4 linked regions of the Homo sapiens genome follow. The protein of the gene in region 3 interacts with the protein of the main gene of each other region in a pairwise test. Each region holds a gene or a part of one and is shown on either strand. Other genes may lie near its edges.

What was found.
Region 1: the proteins of NFIL3 (region 3) and BATF come close enough for resonance energy transfer, tested with the Homo sapiens proteins (one large-scale study listed by BioGRID and IntAct).
Region 2: the proteins of NFIL3 (region 3) and CREB1 interact in binary tests that used the Homo sapiens proteins (3 or more experiments, as listed by UniProt).
Region 4: the proteins of NFIL3 (region 3) and RINT1 interact in binary tests that used the Homo sapiens proteins (3 or more experiments, as listed by UniProt).

The regions. Positions count from the first base shown.
Region 1 is NC_000014.9:75,528,872-75,532,859, forward strand, and holds part of BATF (basic leucine zipper transcriptional factor ATF-like), read left to right. Parts: intron 1-3,988. UniProt on the Homo sapiens protein: AP-1 family transcription factor that controls the differentiation of lineage-specific cells in the immune system: specifically mediates the differentiation of T-helper 17 cells (Th17), follicular T-helper cells (TfH), CD8(+) dendritic cells and class-switch recombination (CSR) in B-cells.
Region 2 is NC_000002.12:207,532,903-207,536,890, forward strand, and holds part of CREB1 (cyclic AMP-responsive element-binding protein 1), read left to right. Parts: intron 1-3,988.
Region 3 is NC_000009.12:91,416,974-91,420,961, forward strand, and holds part of NFIL3 (nuclear factor interleukin-3-regulated protein), read right to left. Parts: intron 2,383-3,988; exon of another isoform or gene 1-2,382.
Region 4 is NC_000007.14:105,538,374-105,542,361, reverse strand, and holds part of RINT1 (RAD50-interacting protein 1), read right to left. Parts: intron 636-3,988; exon of another isoform or gene 507-635; intron 1-506. UniProt on the Homo sapiens protein: Involved in regulation of membrane traffic between the Golgi and the endoplasmic reticulum (ER); the function is proposed to depend on its association in the NRZ complex which is believed to play a role in SNARE assembly at the ER.

The sequences.
Region 1 (3,988 bases), on a different chromosome or scaffold from region 3:
GGAAGGAAAGATCCTGTTTATAATACCAATGACAACAGCAAATGGAAGGAAGGAATAATTTAACAAAAATTATGAAGAGTGTATCCTAAATGATTTTTAAAAGATTCAAATAATTGGAAAGATATACCTTATGTAAAGTTAGCAATTTTCCTTAAGTTAATTGATAAATTTAATGAGATCCCAATAAAAAACCCAATAGGGTTTTCTGGGATTTGGGCAAGAACTAGATTAGCTATTCTAAGTTTCCAGTGAAAAAAAATCATATGACAATTGCCAGGAAAATTCTAAAGAAGAAGTATAATGAAAAAAGATTAACTGACCAACATATTAAAGTGAAACACAAATACAGAAATCAAAACAATGTGGAAAAGACAGAACATTGAACAGGATAGAATATGGAAACAGACCCAAAAACAAATTCAGATTTTAAGACCCAAATACATATTTCAACTCCTAGGACACAAGTATAAATACAAAATGGGCTGGGCACGGTGGCTCACGCTTGTAATCCTAGCACTTTGGGAGGCCAAGGTGGGCAGATCACTTGAAGTCAGGAGTTCGAGACCAGCCTGGCCAACATGGTAAATGTTAAATTTTTTAAAAAAAGGAAGCTAAAGAAACTTGAAAAGACAAATAACCATTAAAAATTTATCTTGGAATGAGGAATTATTTTCTAAATAAAACATAAAACCCTGAAGCCATAAAGGAAAAGATTGATATACATTACTTTTATTCATAAAAAGTAAAAGTTTCTTTATAGATCAAAATACTGTATGCAAAATCAAAGGCAAATGACAAGCTGAGGAAAAATATCTGTAATACATATGACCAAAAAAGGTATGTTTACTTACTATATGAGAGAGCTCTTATGAATAGGAGATGATTAACAACCCAAAAGAAAAATGAACAATGGGCCGGGCGCGGCGGCTCACGCCTTAATCCCAGCAATTTGGGAGGCCGAGGCGGGCGGATCACGAGGTCAGCAGATCGAGACCATCCTGGCTAACACAGTGAAACCCCGTCTCTACTAAAAATACAAAAAATTAGCCAGGCGTGGTGGCGGGTGCCTGTAGTCCCAGCTACTTGAGAGGCTGAGGCAGGAGAATGGCGTGAACCCGGGAGGCGGAGCTTGCAGTGAACCAAGATAGCGCCACTGCACTCCAGCCTGGGAGACAGAGCGAGACTCCGTCAAAAAAAAAAAAAAAAAAGTAAAGAAAAATGAACAATGACTATGAATAGGCAATTTACAGAAAAGAGAAATAAGTGGCAAATAAATGTGTGAAAAGATGGTAGACCTTATTTAGTTAGGAAAATGCCAATTAAAGCAGCAGTGAGGCTGGCAAAGATGAAACATGTTGTTGATACACGATGTTGCCAAGGTAATGGAGAAGCAGGCACCATCACACACAGCTAGTAGTAGAGTCTGCATAACCCTGGTAGAAGGCAATTTGCCCACGTCCATTCAAATTATAGGTGCACATACCCTGCGACTCAGCAATTTGACATCCAGGAGTGTGTTCACAAACAAATCCACACATCATACAATTCTGTACATGTAAAGATAATCATTGCTGCATTGTTTCTTATAGGAAAGACTGAACATAAGCTAAAAAAATCCACCAATAAGGGATTCAATAAATTATTGTCCATTCTGTGGAATATTGCAGATATGTTAAAATAATGAGTTACATCTGAATGTGCTAATCTGGAAGGATTATCACTTCTGTACTTTAAGTTAAAAAGGCATAAATATAGTCCATAGTTTGCTACCATTAGTTTTTTAATTTAATGTTTTATTTATTTATTTATTTTTTATTTTTAGAGACAGGGTCTCACTATGTTGCCCAGGCTGGTCTCGAACTCCTGAGCTCAAGTGATCTGCCCTGCCCACCTTGGCCTCCCAAAGTGCTGGGATTACAGGTGTGAGCAACAGCACCCAGCCCCTTCTGTGTTTTTAATAAAAAGAAAAAGTTACATATATGCATAAGTATAAATGCAAACTTTTTCAAATAGATTATAAAAAATTGTTAATGATATTTATTTCTGAAAAGTAGGACTAAAGATCTAAAGCAAGAGGGAGATACTTGGCATTCTTTACCTTTTATACAGTTTGGGATTTTTTATCACATGCTTTTATCTTTATAATATAGATATCAAAATTCTCAGCATTGATCATTACCACACATGCATTAGGAGGATTTCTTTTCTAATTTTGACATCAAACATTGAATAATCTTCCATCACGACATGGAAGAGTATTCAATCTTGACGTTATCTTTTGAACATCATACATAAATATCTCAGCCCTTGGGAGAACCAACTGTAAGTTGGGATTTGAGTGACTCTAAGGTCCACAGTACTATATGATAAAAGATGGCAAATCCGTTTCCTTTGTGTAGCCATCTTGGTTGGTTGGTCATGGCTATCTGGTGCCGTACAGCTGGAAGGATTTCAAGTCAAAGACCAGGATCAGTGGAAAAGAGAGCTGAGGTCAATTAAGAAGCTTTATTCATGAAAAGGCTAAAATCAGTGGAGTTGCCGGGAGCAGTGGCAAATAGCAGTGTTAGCCCTGAGCCGAGCTGTTGACAAGTCATATCTGGCCTGGTGGATGGAGCTGAAAGCAAGTGAGAGTAACAGCCAAGTTTGAAAGCTTGAGATTTAGGTACTGTCTTAGATGGAAGTGGGCCAGGTGCTTGCCTGGGGCTGCCTCCTGAAGGAGTCTCACACCAGTATAAGAAAAAAGAGAGGTTTACAGGCTCCAGGGATGTGCTTTGTCATATATGACAGAAAAGTCATGAGTATAAATTATGCATTAAATGAAGCTTTGAGCTAACACTGTGAGAAATACGGTATTTACAATTGGAGAAAAATTGAGTAATGGAGGAAAAGATGTTTGGGTAGCACTATTGTTCTTGGCCTTCTGAGGAGGCAGAGAAGGATGCTTACGGTCCTATTTCACTCCTGGAATTCTTTTGCTCTCTCTGGGAGACCATGCCATAATGTTTGTTGGCACAGATAAGTCACAGGTCAGGAATGTTCAGGCTAGTTCCACCCTTAAAAAGTTCAATGTAGAATCAGTGAACCATCTATGGAAAGAGATGCGACCCTTCTGTCTCCATTGCTATGAATTTCTTTTAAGAAAAAACCATGTTAATTGAACAAACGACTATGTATTAACCACTGTGCCTCAAGTGCTCTCCCTGCAGCATCTCATTTAATCTGCATAAAAGCTGTATTTTATAATTCCTTGCATTAAGTAACTTGATGGAGATGACACAGCTTGTGACTAGGTCTGTCTGACGTCAGAACCCATTTTCCTAACCATTAAGTTTTACTGCCTCTTTCTTCAAACTCTGATGAAGATGTATTCATCTTCCCTAACCTATATTTTCCTTGAATCTCTACATGAATTAATTTTTTTGTCTTTTAAGCAATATCCTCCAAAATCTACACTGTCCCCCAGCCATCATCAGGCGTGATCAAGAAAGTAAAGACATGTTTACTTTCAATACAGTATATCCATTGTACAATTGATATCATATATGTCATATATATCATGATATCAACATATATAGATAGGTACTATATATAGATAGATACAATTGGTATATCAAATGATACAATATGTCAATTGAAATCTTTTTTGAGAAGTCTGTGTAGCAATAAATGTTAACATCTTTCACAGGAATTACCTTTGACACAACAGAGTTTGAAGAAAAAATAATTTACAAAGATGCTTAGTTCATCATTATCTGTGAATAGTAAATACTTTAACAATGCTATAAAACTTGACAGGGGGCTTACAACAGAAGATGAAGCATATTATGATACATTCATACAATAAAAAAATTTATGCTGGTACTAAAAATGATTATGTAGATCTGTATTTATCAGCATAGAAAGATGTCAGTGATACAGCATTAAGTGAAAAAGGCAAATTACAAAGAGCATGCAGAGTATAACCCTTTCACGTAAAATTTGTGGGTTT
Region 2 (3,988 bases), on a different chromosome or scaffold from region 3:
GAGCCACCGCGCCCGGCCTGTTTTATTATTTATACATTCATAATTTGTGATTCTTAGCAATTCCAGGTGAAACTTCAAACTTGTATTCATTAATACTTGAACATTCACCTGGAACATGTTACTAAATTGTACTTCTGCACTGTTCCAGCCATGGATAAAAATTACAGCTGGATCTGCTTGAATCTTTTTTTTTTTTTCATGAACACCTACATTTAGAAAGCTAATAAATTACTTGACAGAGTTTGCTTGAAGAATGTTAAAAGAACACTTCTTTGGGAATTTAAAACTTAAGTGTTACCTGTTTTGAATGATTTTTTTTTTGTTTACATAAAGAGCCTGAAGAAACTTAGACACCTGATCCATAAAAATGGCACCTTTTTCTACTTTCTGAAACTCATATTCTTGATTAGGTCTCATTATTAGAAATTTTGGGTTCTTCATAGAGAAGTAGCTTTATTTCTCTCTCATTCTAAGACATTTGGTTTTGTTTGTTTGGATACAGTATGGTTATGGGGTTATAGTAAAACCAAGTATGTCTTCCTCACGTGTTTTTAAATTCTACTTTTTATAACAGAAAATTATTTTTAACCTAATGCTTACAATATATTACCGAAATTTATAATTTCATTTATTCCATAAATAGCTTATCAGATATGAGTTACATAAACTTGTTTACAGCCAGCTTGTGACATAGTTTTGCAAATATCTTGATATATGGTGTAACTTTGATGGCTTCTTTATTGAATAGAGCTCAAATCTAAATTTAAGAATGTAATGAGATGTCAAGATGGAAAAATGCAGGATTTTTTTTTTTCTTACCCATGTGTAAACTCATCTGTACTGCAGTATCACTTGAGACAGCAGTTTATGGTAATTCAAATATTTATTTGGCACTCACTGTGACAGAGAATGTAGTTGAAAGAGCATGAGGTTTGGAATCATAGGCCTAGGTCTGAATCCAAGCATTGCCACTGCTATCCTGTACCCACCCTAAAGGAATTTTGTGTCCTGAAGGAAGTTTCTTAATCTTTCTCAGCCTCAGTTTCCTTATATGTAAAATTAGAATACTACTACTTATTTCATAAGATTGCGAGATAAACATAAAGTACCTTAGGGCTACAACTAATGATAGCTAGTCCCTTAAGCTTTATTTTAACTTCCTACCTGTGGGCCCTTAGGCAAGTTATCTTAACTTCTTAATACCTCACTTTCCTTTCTGATCAGTGTAGAACAACTACCTCAGAATTGTGGGGGTTAACTATAAAGTAATACATACTAAGTCCCAGGCATTGTGCAAGTGTCAAGTGCTCAAGTGTTGACAAGGCTTTTTTCTTTTGTTTTAATTTTTTTTTGAGACGGAGTCTTGCTCTGTTGCCCAGGATGGTGTGCAGTGATGCAGTCTCAGCTCACGGCAACCTCTGCTTCCTGGATTCAAGTGATTCTCCTGCCTCAGCCTCCCTAGTAGCTGGAACTACAGGCATGCACCACCACGCCCGGCTAATTTTTGTGTTTTTAGTAGAGACAGGGTTTCACCATGTTGGTCAGGCTGGTCTTGAATGCCTGGGATTATAGGCGTGAGCCACCACGCCCAGCTGGTCTGTTACTTTTTAAATTATTTATTATTACTATATGTAATACAGTGGGTCAGAAGCTACAACAAATCCAAAGATGAATTACGCTGTCTTATCTCTACCCTCAGGAACTGTTGGGGACACAGTGACTAAGGCAAAATATGTGTCAAAAGAAAGCAGTCAAAGGAAAAAGGGATCACCTTTGGTGAAGTGAGGAGTATATTTTTTATATTTCTAATTTGGTTTTTTGAATAAGTAATTCATTCACATGATCTATAATTCAAAACATAATAACAGCAAAATGCCCTACATTCTCTTGCCCTATTACCTAAGTGTTAGCAATTTTTTATTTGTCCTTTAAGAGGTGTTTTATGCAAACACGAGCAAATATGTATGTACAGTCTCCCCCTTTTTGTACAAATGGTAGCATACTAGGTATACGCTCTCCTATATCATGCTTTACCCCCACCACTTAATATGGCTTAGCAATTTTGTATCAGCACATAAAGAGCTTCTTCATTTTTTAACATACAATTGGAAGCATTTTATTATGTAAGTAGACTGTATTAACCAGTTAGTGAGCTGCTTTTATTCTTAGGTCTTATATTACCTTTTAAACTAAGGGAAACTGCCATCTTGCCTTTATTTCTTTAAATGAAAAACTTTCTATTTGAATGAAAAATAAATAGTTTGTGACAGGAAATTGTTATTTAAAGTCCCTCATTTCCTGTTTAACTCCAGTTTTTAAAAGTTTTAGTAAAATGATCAAAATGTACATGAGGAGGCAAGCAAGCCAGGTTAAGAGTTAACTCACAAGGTGAATTTAACTCTTTTGTTGAGGTTCTTACAGTTCTGAACAGACTACTTCTTTCAATTATTATTTTGGCCCAAAAGGTTTTTATAGCTTTCTTTCTTAATGAGAAAGAACATTTCATATAGTCCGGTGTTTTTTTGGGTTTTTTTTAACAGACAGCTCATGGGATATTATTACCCAGTAAGGCTGATTACTATACTAGATTTCTCCCTGCATTCATTTATTTTTTACATACTTGTTAACTTACCTTGACGATTTTCTAGTATTTCTTAATGTAATTATGTGAGTTTTATATTTTGTACCTAAATTTAAAAATAGTGAGATTCACCTATATGATTGCTGAGATGATAAACTTTACTGCATAGATGATTTTTTTACCCCCGTGGGGAAACCTTTGGTCAACCAGTTGGACCAAGTAATACGTATTTCAGCCAAAGCACAAAATGCGTTTCACTACCTTTTTTTTTTCCTCTAGCTTTTCGAAACAGCATTGAGCTACAATACTTTTTTATTTATTTATTTATTTATTTATTTTTATTTATTTATTTTTTTGAGGCAAGGTTTGGCTCTATCACCCAGGCTGGAGTGCAGTGGCACACACTTGGCTCACTGCAACCTCTGTTTCCTGGCTCAAGCCATCCTCCCATTTCAGCTTCCTGAGTGAGTGGGACAACAGGCGCGCACCACCAGGCCCGGCTAATTTTTTGTAGAGACAGAGTTTCGCCATGTTGCCCAGGCTGGTCTCAAACTCATGAGCTCAAGCCATCCACCTGCCTCAGCCTCCCAAAGAGTTGGGATTACAAGCGTGAGCCACCATGCCCGAATGCTGTAGTACATTTTAAATATACATGCTGTTTGTATTTATCTTTAAAATGTACACACTATGACTTTTTTGAGTTGATTAAACTCAGAAAGTGATTAATAATATAGCAGCAAGGGCACAAATCTCTTTCCAGAAAACATCATTAAGTAAAGCTGTCATGGGCCAGTCGCGGTGGCTGACGCCTGTGTGATCCCAGCACTTTGGGAGGCTGAGGTAGGTGGATCACCTGAGGTCAGGAGTTCGAGACCAGCCTGGCCAACATGGTGAAACCCCGTCTCTACTAAAAATACAAAAATTAGCTGGGCATGGGGGCAGGCGCCTGCAATCCCAGCTACTCAGGAGGCTGAGGCAGGATAATCACTTGGACCTGGAAGGCAGAGGTTGCAGTGAGCTGAGATTGCACCATTGCACGCCAGGCTGGGCGACAAGAGCGAAACTCTGTCTTAAGAAAAAAACAAAAGCTGTCATGGTATATTTCGTTTTTTGTATTCCCAAGTTGGTGTTTATGCGTTGATCATATATACAAAGTTTTTAATGTAAGAATATTGTTTTGAGGTTTTACTAATATTTGATTTAAAATATTACTATGTGCTATTTGGCCAGGCGTGGTGGCTCACGTCTGTAATCCCGGCACTTTGGGAGGTCGAGGCGGGCGGATCACTTGAGGCCAGGAGTTTGAGACCAGCCTGGCCAAGATGGTGAAACCCCATCTCTACTAAAAATAGAAGAATTATCTGGGTATAGTTGTATACGCCTGTAGTCCCAGCTGCTTGGGAGGCT
Region 3 (3,988 bases):
CCCAGAACTAATGTTTAACAATCCAAGCTCCACAAAAGAAAAGAATAAACATGCTTTGTTTCAATCATCTGAAATCTTACTAATAGTCTAAACATTAAAATCTACTCTGAGAACATTTTGTTATTAATTATCTATAAAGGGTAAGTTTTATTGCAAATTGCAATATATATTTTGTTTTTAAAATTCTGTCAATAGAAGATGAAATACTATTTGATATGCCCAATGATTTGGAAACATTATAGAATTATCTTATTTTCCCTCTACTCTCTGAATGTATTGTTTTCTCCCTGTTATATAATACAGATAACAGTAAAGGAAAAAAAAATGTCTTCAAGGTAAACCTAAGTTATGTTAAACTGTAAGCCACCTCTCCAGTAAGACAGCAGATGCTTATTTTTTAGATAAATGTCATTTTCATGAAAAAATCAAATCAATTAATCAATTCACATCTCTTTATACTTTTAAAGTATGAATACTAGCAATATGTTAACCCTACATTTTCTTCCTGTGGGTAAAATTCACAGTATCTGCGTCAATGAAATGCTTTACTTCTTTTCATGGATGAGAAAACAATCTAGTATTTAAAAGCAGAGATGAAATAAGAAAAGAATTCACTATACATGTACAACCCAGAGGAAATGGGGAGTGAAAAAACTCAGTCAGAAAACACCGAAGTTGCAAGAGAATTTTCTAATCCCGTTGAAAAAGAGAAGGATTTTTAAGCTGAGAAAACTATGTTAAACCTCTCTAAGGGCCATTCTGTCCCCAAGAAGCAGCTTACCCCAAAGTTAGAGAGAAATGTGCACTTGATCAAGACAGGCAAGACGCACACACACACATACACACACACTCTCGCACACTGCCAGAATCTATTCTATCATAGCAACAAATTGACCTACTTTTTCTATTTGGGTGCCTCTGTAAATAAATGTGTCAAAGCCTGATCCAGTTTATGATAAATGAAAATATTTCAAGTTCGACAAAGGACTAGCTGAAAATTAAATTTAAATTTAATAAATACGATGACAACATTGCATTTTATTACATCACTGATGTAATTTAAGTAATTGAAATATGAAATAGTATAACTTAACATTCTTCTTTAAGAGGTCGTCAGTGTTTGAAACTTAATACACAATTAAATTATTCTGAAGCCTGCACAGAGTAAGCACATACACGCTAGCACGACCAATTAACTGCACAGCTTGAGAAATAAGAACAGCTCTCACTAAAGATGGGTAGTAACATGGGGGAAAAACAGAACAGTAATAATTTTTTAAAAATCTATAGAAACTTAAATGTGGGGACTATTAATATCTTGAAACTTCTGAAAAGATAACTGATCAGTGTAGCAACTAATCTGAAATCTTAAAAGGACACCAACAATCACAAAGTAACCCAGTTGTAGAAAATTCCCCAATGAATAAGTAATACATGCAACATGGTGTAATGATGGCAAAAATGGTGGGCTAAGGGGACAGTCAGGCTGAGAAAATTCTTGAAAGTTTCTAATGATAATGTAGAATCATCCCAACTTGCTTCACTTGGCTTTTTAATTTCTTTTTCCACTTTTCCAGTCAGTGGATGATTATAAATGTCATTTTCTACCTTATGAATAGAGTGGATTTTCAAATGCTTATTTGTAGTGTTTATTTGAAGGCCAGTTAATTACAGTTTAAGACCCCTAAAAAGCTAATTAATAAAAGACATCATGTTCTGATAACTAAAAGGCTTATAAACATCATTCTGAGTCCTATGAAACTGAGTCCTCAAAGCACAGATTAATAACAAATGGCATCTAGCAAATCTCTAGTAAACTTTCTTATCATAAAAACAAGTTTATGCTCTATTATTAAAGCCATATGAGAAACAGTTTTGGGTGTTTTTTTTTTTTTTAACTACAGTAAAGTTACTTACAAAGAAATGTGAAAGATAACTGGGGTAGTAGTAATAAAAATTCATTTTGAAACTGAAAAATTCATATTGTAATGTCTGTGATCAAAGGTCAACGTCTTTCAACATTCTCATACAAGTCCAACCTGGATAGAAATCAACTCAAATATAATTTAGAAAAATAACAGGATATCAAACAATGTATTAAACCCCGTGAAATACAGGCATACCTTACAAAAACAAGAAATGAATATTAAAGGCAATTTCAATTACATTGTTTCTGTTATATTTTGAATTGAATCCCAAGTGTGCTCTCATTCCTCAATACAAATTAAAAATAAACAACTTTAACAGCATCAATGGCATCTGGATTACAATGGAAATCATGAAGTATATGAGTTTAACCTGGGTAAAAATAAAGCCCAGGCAATATGACTGCACCTTTTCCATTCCATGCTGCAATCGCATTTACATCTCGAAATTGACTCTAATGACCAAGGCAAGGTCAACTAGAAAAATCCACTCAGCTGGTGAGTCAGGCACATTGCTCAACGTCCGAAAGGCCTCTCACAAAGGGTTTTAATTTTCAGGCTGTTGCATCACAGTGATGTTATAACTGCACTGCACAAAAATAAGTCTTTAACCCAGAAAAGGAAATTGTTTCAAAAACTACAGTGAGTGTGAGAATACACTTTGTTGAGGTGCAAATTTCCCCATCTGGTTTTCAGGCTCTGCGACCTGGGCTGCAAATTCATTTCTCTGAGTTTCCATTTCCTCATCTATGAAATGTGGATGATAACAGAGCCCCTCAACACTGTGCCTGGCACATGCAGAGTATGTGTTTAGTAAATACTAACTCTTTATCTCTTTTCTGAAGAATGATCAGTATCAAAAGGCAACGATGCCTATCAGTTCCAGGCTGTTTTTGCTGCTCGTGACTCTTACTGAAGCCCTGACCTATGTCGCAAGTGTAAGGGTAAACCAAATGAAAATTTGGTCAAAAGGGTCAAATATCAACAGTTTCACAGGACTGGCCTTAGTTTTCAGGCTACATATACCCCCTACAAGAGAGCTTATCTGTGGGGTCTCACCATCCACTGCTGATCTCAGACCACAAAGTTTTAGATAGAGAAATCATCCAAGCTACAGAAAATGAGTCACAGAATGTGTAAGGGAATTGGAAAAAGCTGAGCTATTAATATGGCAATTGTCACGTCATTCCTGCTACTATAATCGACTCATCTCTCTATTCCTTCAAGCAGCTCCCCAAAACATTAACCCAATGACTTGGGAAGTTTGAGGTTCTGCAATCCTGTCAGGAATTCCCCTCAAACTGAAATTAACATTGAACACGATGGCAAATTAAAAAATATATATATTATTAGAACAAAAAAAGTATCTCAAGAAAGATCTTACAGACTTAATTCCAACACGAATCCTTACTGTTACTGCGAAGAGATTTACAAAGAGAAAAATGAAGGTAAATACACACACACACACACACACACACACACACACACACACAGATTCTGGTTCCTGATCAATAACACAGGAAACATTTATTGAACTCCTCACAACCAACTAAGTCAACAGGTTTTATTCCCTCAGTTTACCCTGGAGAGTGATGGAAATCAGGACAGTGTTGGAAGATAACAAGCTGGGGCCTGGGACCCAGGGTTCTTGTGAGCCCAGGGCCTGCGCTCTTAGGATCTGTACCTCACCGAAACCTGTTCTCTAACTACTGCCTGTAACAGGAGGGAAACTGATTAGGGATAGCGGTGTAGGGTATGATGCCAAAGAAAGCAAGTTTTCGGTCAGTTTTCAACAAAGAGCAGATTGCGTTGATATGCTTCAGGAGAACATCTGTGATGTCTCCATGAATTACTGCATGGGTACAATCTTGGAAGTCTTTATGCGAGGATGAAAGTACTGTAGTTTTACAGTAGGACAGCAGCGTCTATGTGGGCGTTTAGATTTTATTTTGAACTCTGGAGATCAGTGTTCTCTCTCCTCTAGCCTTTGACCACATAAATTAAAGGTTAAAAAAAATCGGCTCAACTCAACTGGCCAAAGTCAAGCTGAGGCCTTCCTTTTA
Region 4 (3,988 bases), on a different chromosome or scaffold from region 3:
AGATAAAATTTTCATAATTTTTTTTTTGAGAGGGGATCTCACGCTGTTGCCCAGGCTGGAGTGCAGTGGTACCATCATAGCTCACTGCAGCCTGGACTTCCTGGGCTCAACCAATCCTCCCACCTCAACCTCCCCAGTAGTTGGGACTACACATATGCACCACTACACCTGGCTTTTCTTTTTTTTTTTTCTTTAAATAGAAATAAGGTCTCACTATGTTGCCCAGGCTGTATGTAACCTTTTTTATTAGTTCGTTCCCTTCAAAATACACATTTTTTGTAACAGAACTGAAAATCATCCATCAAAACCTTCAAAAAAAGGTTTGATTTCTTCATCCTGTACTAATCAATCCAAACATAACATGCTGTTTTATATACACACAAATAGCAGGAAGAAGTATGCCTTTGTGTTGAAAACAATAAGTGAAACAAAAAAATAAAAATAAAATAAAAAATATATGCATACATACATATACACATACATGTAGAGAAAGGGACTTAACTCACTGGCTCCAGTAAGCATCTAGAGGTCTGCCTCCATAGGCTCAGCAGAGGATCCAGCTAGAGAAAACTTATTTTATTTTTTTGAGACAGAGTTTCGTTCTGTCACCCAGGCTGGAGTGCAGTGGCGTGATCTCAGCTCACTGCAACCTCCACCTCCCGGGGTCAAGTGATTCTCCTGCCTCAGCCTCCTAAATAGCAGGAATTATAGACACGTGCCATCACGCTCGGCTAATTTTTGTATTTTTAGTAGAGACGGGGTTTCACCACGTTGGTCAGGCTGATCTCGAACTCCTGACCTCATGATCCGCCCACCCCAGCCTCCCAGAGTGCTGGGATTACAGGCATAAGCCACCGTGCCAGGCCGAGAAAACTTATTAATACATGCTCTACCTGCTAAATATTTTCCTTCAAAGCAAAGGAAGGGCCGGGCACGGTGGCTCACACCTGTAATCCCAGCAGTTTGGGAGGCCAAGACAGGCGGATCATTTGAGGTCAGGAGTTCAAGACCAGCCTGGCCAACATGATGAAACCCCATCTCTACTAAAAATACAAAAACTAGCCAGGTTTGGTGGCACACACCTTGTAATCCCAGCTCTAGAGAGGCCAAGGCAAGAATCACTTGAACCGGGAGGAGGTTGCAGTGAGCTGAGACTGCACCACCGCACTCCATCCAGCCTGGGTGACAGAGCAAGACTCCTCAAAGAAGAAAAAAAAAAATGCAAGCTGGGTGCGGTGACTCACACCTGTAATCCCAGCACTTTGGGAGGCCAAGGTGGGTGGATCACAAGGTCAGGAGTTCAAGACCAGCCTGGCCAAGATGGCAAAATCTTGTCTCTACTAAAAAATACAAAAAAATTAGCTGAGCATGGTGGCACATACCTGTAATCCCAGCACTTTGGGAGGCTGAGGCAGAGAATTTCTTAAACCCGGGAGGCAGAGGTTGCAGTGGGCCGAGACTGCGCCACTGCCATCTAGCCTGGGTGACAGAGCGAGACTCCATATCAAAAAAAAAAAAAAAAAGGAAACAAAGATCTCATTCTAACAGGCTGAGCATCTATATTTTGCCAACATACCCCAGGTGATTCTGAATTAAGGCCAGGCTAAGAAGCACTGACTTGATGAGATGATATCCAGGCAATGCCTTTAGAAAGGGCATTTAGTGGCCAGGTGCAGTGGCTCACACCTGTAATCCCAGCACTTTGGGAGGCCAAGGAGGGCAGGTCACTGGAGGTCAGGAGTTCGAGACCAGCCTAGCCAACATGGTGAAACCCTGTCTCTACTAAAAATACAAAAATTCAGCCGGGCACAGTGTCTCATGCCTGTAATCCTAGCACTTTGGGAGGCAGAAGCTGGTGGATCACTTGAGGTAAGGAGTTTGAGACCACACTTGCCAACATGGTGAAACCCCGTCTCTAATAAAAATACAAAAACTAGCCGGGTGTGGTAGTATGAGCCTGTAATCCCAGCTACTCAAGAGGCTGAGGCAGGAGAATTGGTGAAACCAGGAGGCGGAGGTTACAGTGAGCTGAGATCGCTCCACTGCACTCCAGCCTGGGCGACAGAGTGAGACTCTGTCTCAAAAAATAAAATAAAATAAATACAAATACAAAAATGAGCTGAGGATGGTGGCGCATGCCTGTAATCCCAGCTATTCAGGAGGCTGAGGCAGGAGAATCACTTGAAACCCGGAAGGCAGAGGTAGCAGTGAGCTGAGATCACACCACCACACTCCAGCCTGGGCGACAGAGGAAGACTCCATCTCAAAAAAAAAAAAAAAAAGAAAATGGCATTTATTAAGTGAATTTTTCTTATAGTATGTGGGAAAACATATACAAATATTAGTCATCAGCAAAATACAAAGAACATTATAGAATAATTTCAATCAACAGTGATTAGATACTTATTCTGTACCAGGCACTGCGCTAGAAATATGCAGATAAACAAGACACAGCATCCGTCCTTCAGGTCACTTTGGTATATAAGAGTGTTGTAAGCAAATAATTTCAACAGTGGGATTAATGCAATAAAATAGACAGGCTATATTTAATGAATGGGCACATTAATCACCTAAAGATCTTGTTGTAATACAGATTCTGATACAGTAAGTCTGAAGTAAGACTGAGATTCTGCATTTCTACAAAGCTCCCAATCTGCCTAAACTAACATGGTATCAGCAAGAGTGGGAAAGATGGGCCGGGAGCAGTGACTCACGCCTGTAATCCCAGCACTTTGGAAGGCCAAGATCCACTTTCGGGCAGATCACCTGAGGTTGGGAGTTTGAGACCAACCTGACCAACATGGAGAAACCCCATCTCTACCAAAAATACAAAATTAGCCGAGCGTGGTGGCACATGCCTATAATCCCAGCTACTTGGGAGCCTGAGGCGGGAGAATCACTCGAACCCAGGAGGTGGAGGTTGCAGTGAGCCAAGATTGTGCCATTGCACTCCAGCCTGGGCAACAAGAGTGAAACTCCAACTCAAAAAAAAAAAAAAAAAAAAAAGAGTGGGAAAGATGGGATGGATACCAGAGATGTTGAGGCTGAACTCAGATGACTTGGTGATGGGATAGAGGATGAGAGGATGATAAGAAGGAATCTAGGACTCCTAGGCTTCAGGTCTGGGTGACAGGCAAATAGTGGTGCCATTATCTAACCAAGACAGACAAGCCTCTAAAAAATGGATCAGTATAGTTTTGGACATGCTGAATTTAAGGTTCAATAAGGAACTTCAGTAAAAGTTTCTGTGGTCATTAGGGAAACAAACCTGATTACAGTGGGTAAAAGATGAATGACAAAAAGTAGAGATAGATAACAAAGGTTACTTTCTGAAGCCTGACAATCAAAGGAAAGAACTAATACCTGCTAAAAGATCATGGGTTTTTTTGTTTCTTTGTTAAGGTTTTATGGAAAAGACCTGTCTATGTGCACATGCTGAAGGGATAGGACTGGTTGACGAACACAGGGTAAAATTATAAGAGTGACACAAGTTTACTGAGGTGGCAGAGAGAACCTGGGGTATAAGGTCTGCCTTCGACTGATCCTTTGCTGAATGAAGAGGTTAAAAATGACTGCACATAAATTTGTCGATTGTGGGATAGACTATTCAACAGACTGAATTCAATGCTACTAAATTCATGCTAGGCTTCTATTTTTTTCTGCTAGGGAAAAGGAAAGGGCAGAATGGACAGGTTGGGTAGATGTCTCAAACAGAATCTGAAAGAACAGTTGAGGGGAGTAGCAGAGGAGCTGACGTTCCCATGGAAGGACTGCTGGTGGGGCTGAAGACTCAGCCAGGGTGGCAGACCACACACATAGATTGGCATCAATCTACTCAGCTGCATGACTTCCTCCAACTGGGCCCACAACAACCTGCCTGCAGGAGTGAAAAGGCAGACAAAGCCAGGCTAAACTTGAAGACTAGCAGTAGTTGTGGTGGGAAGACAGGAAGGTGTGGAGGCCTAAGGTAATGGGGACAGGAGAATAT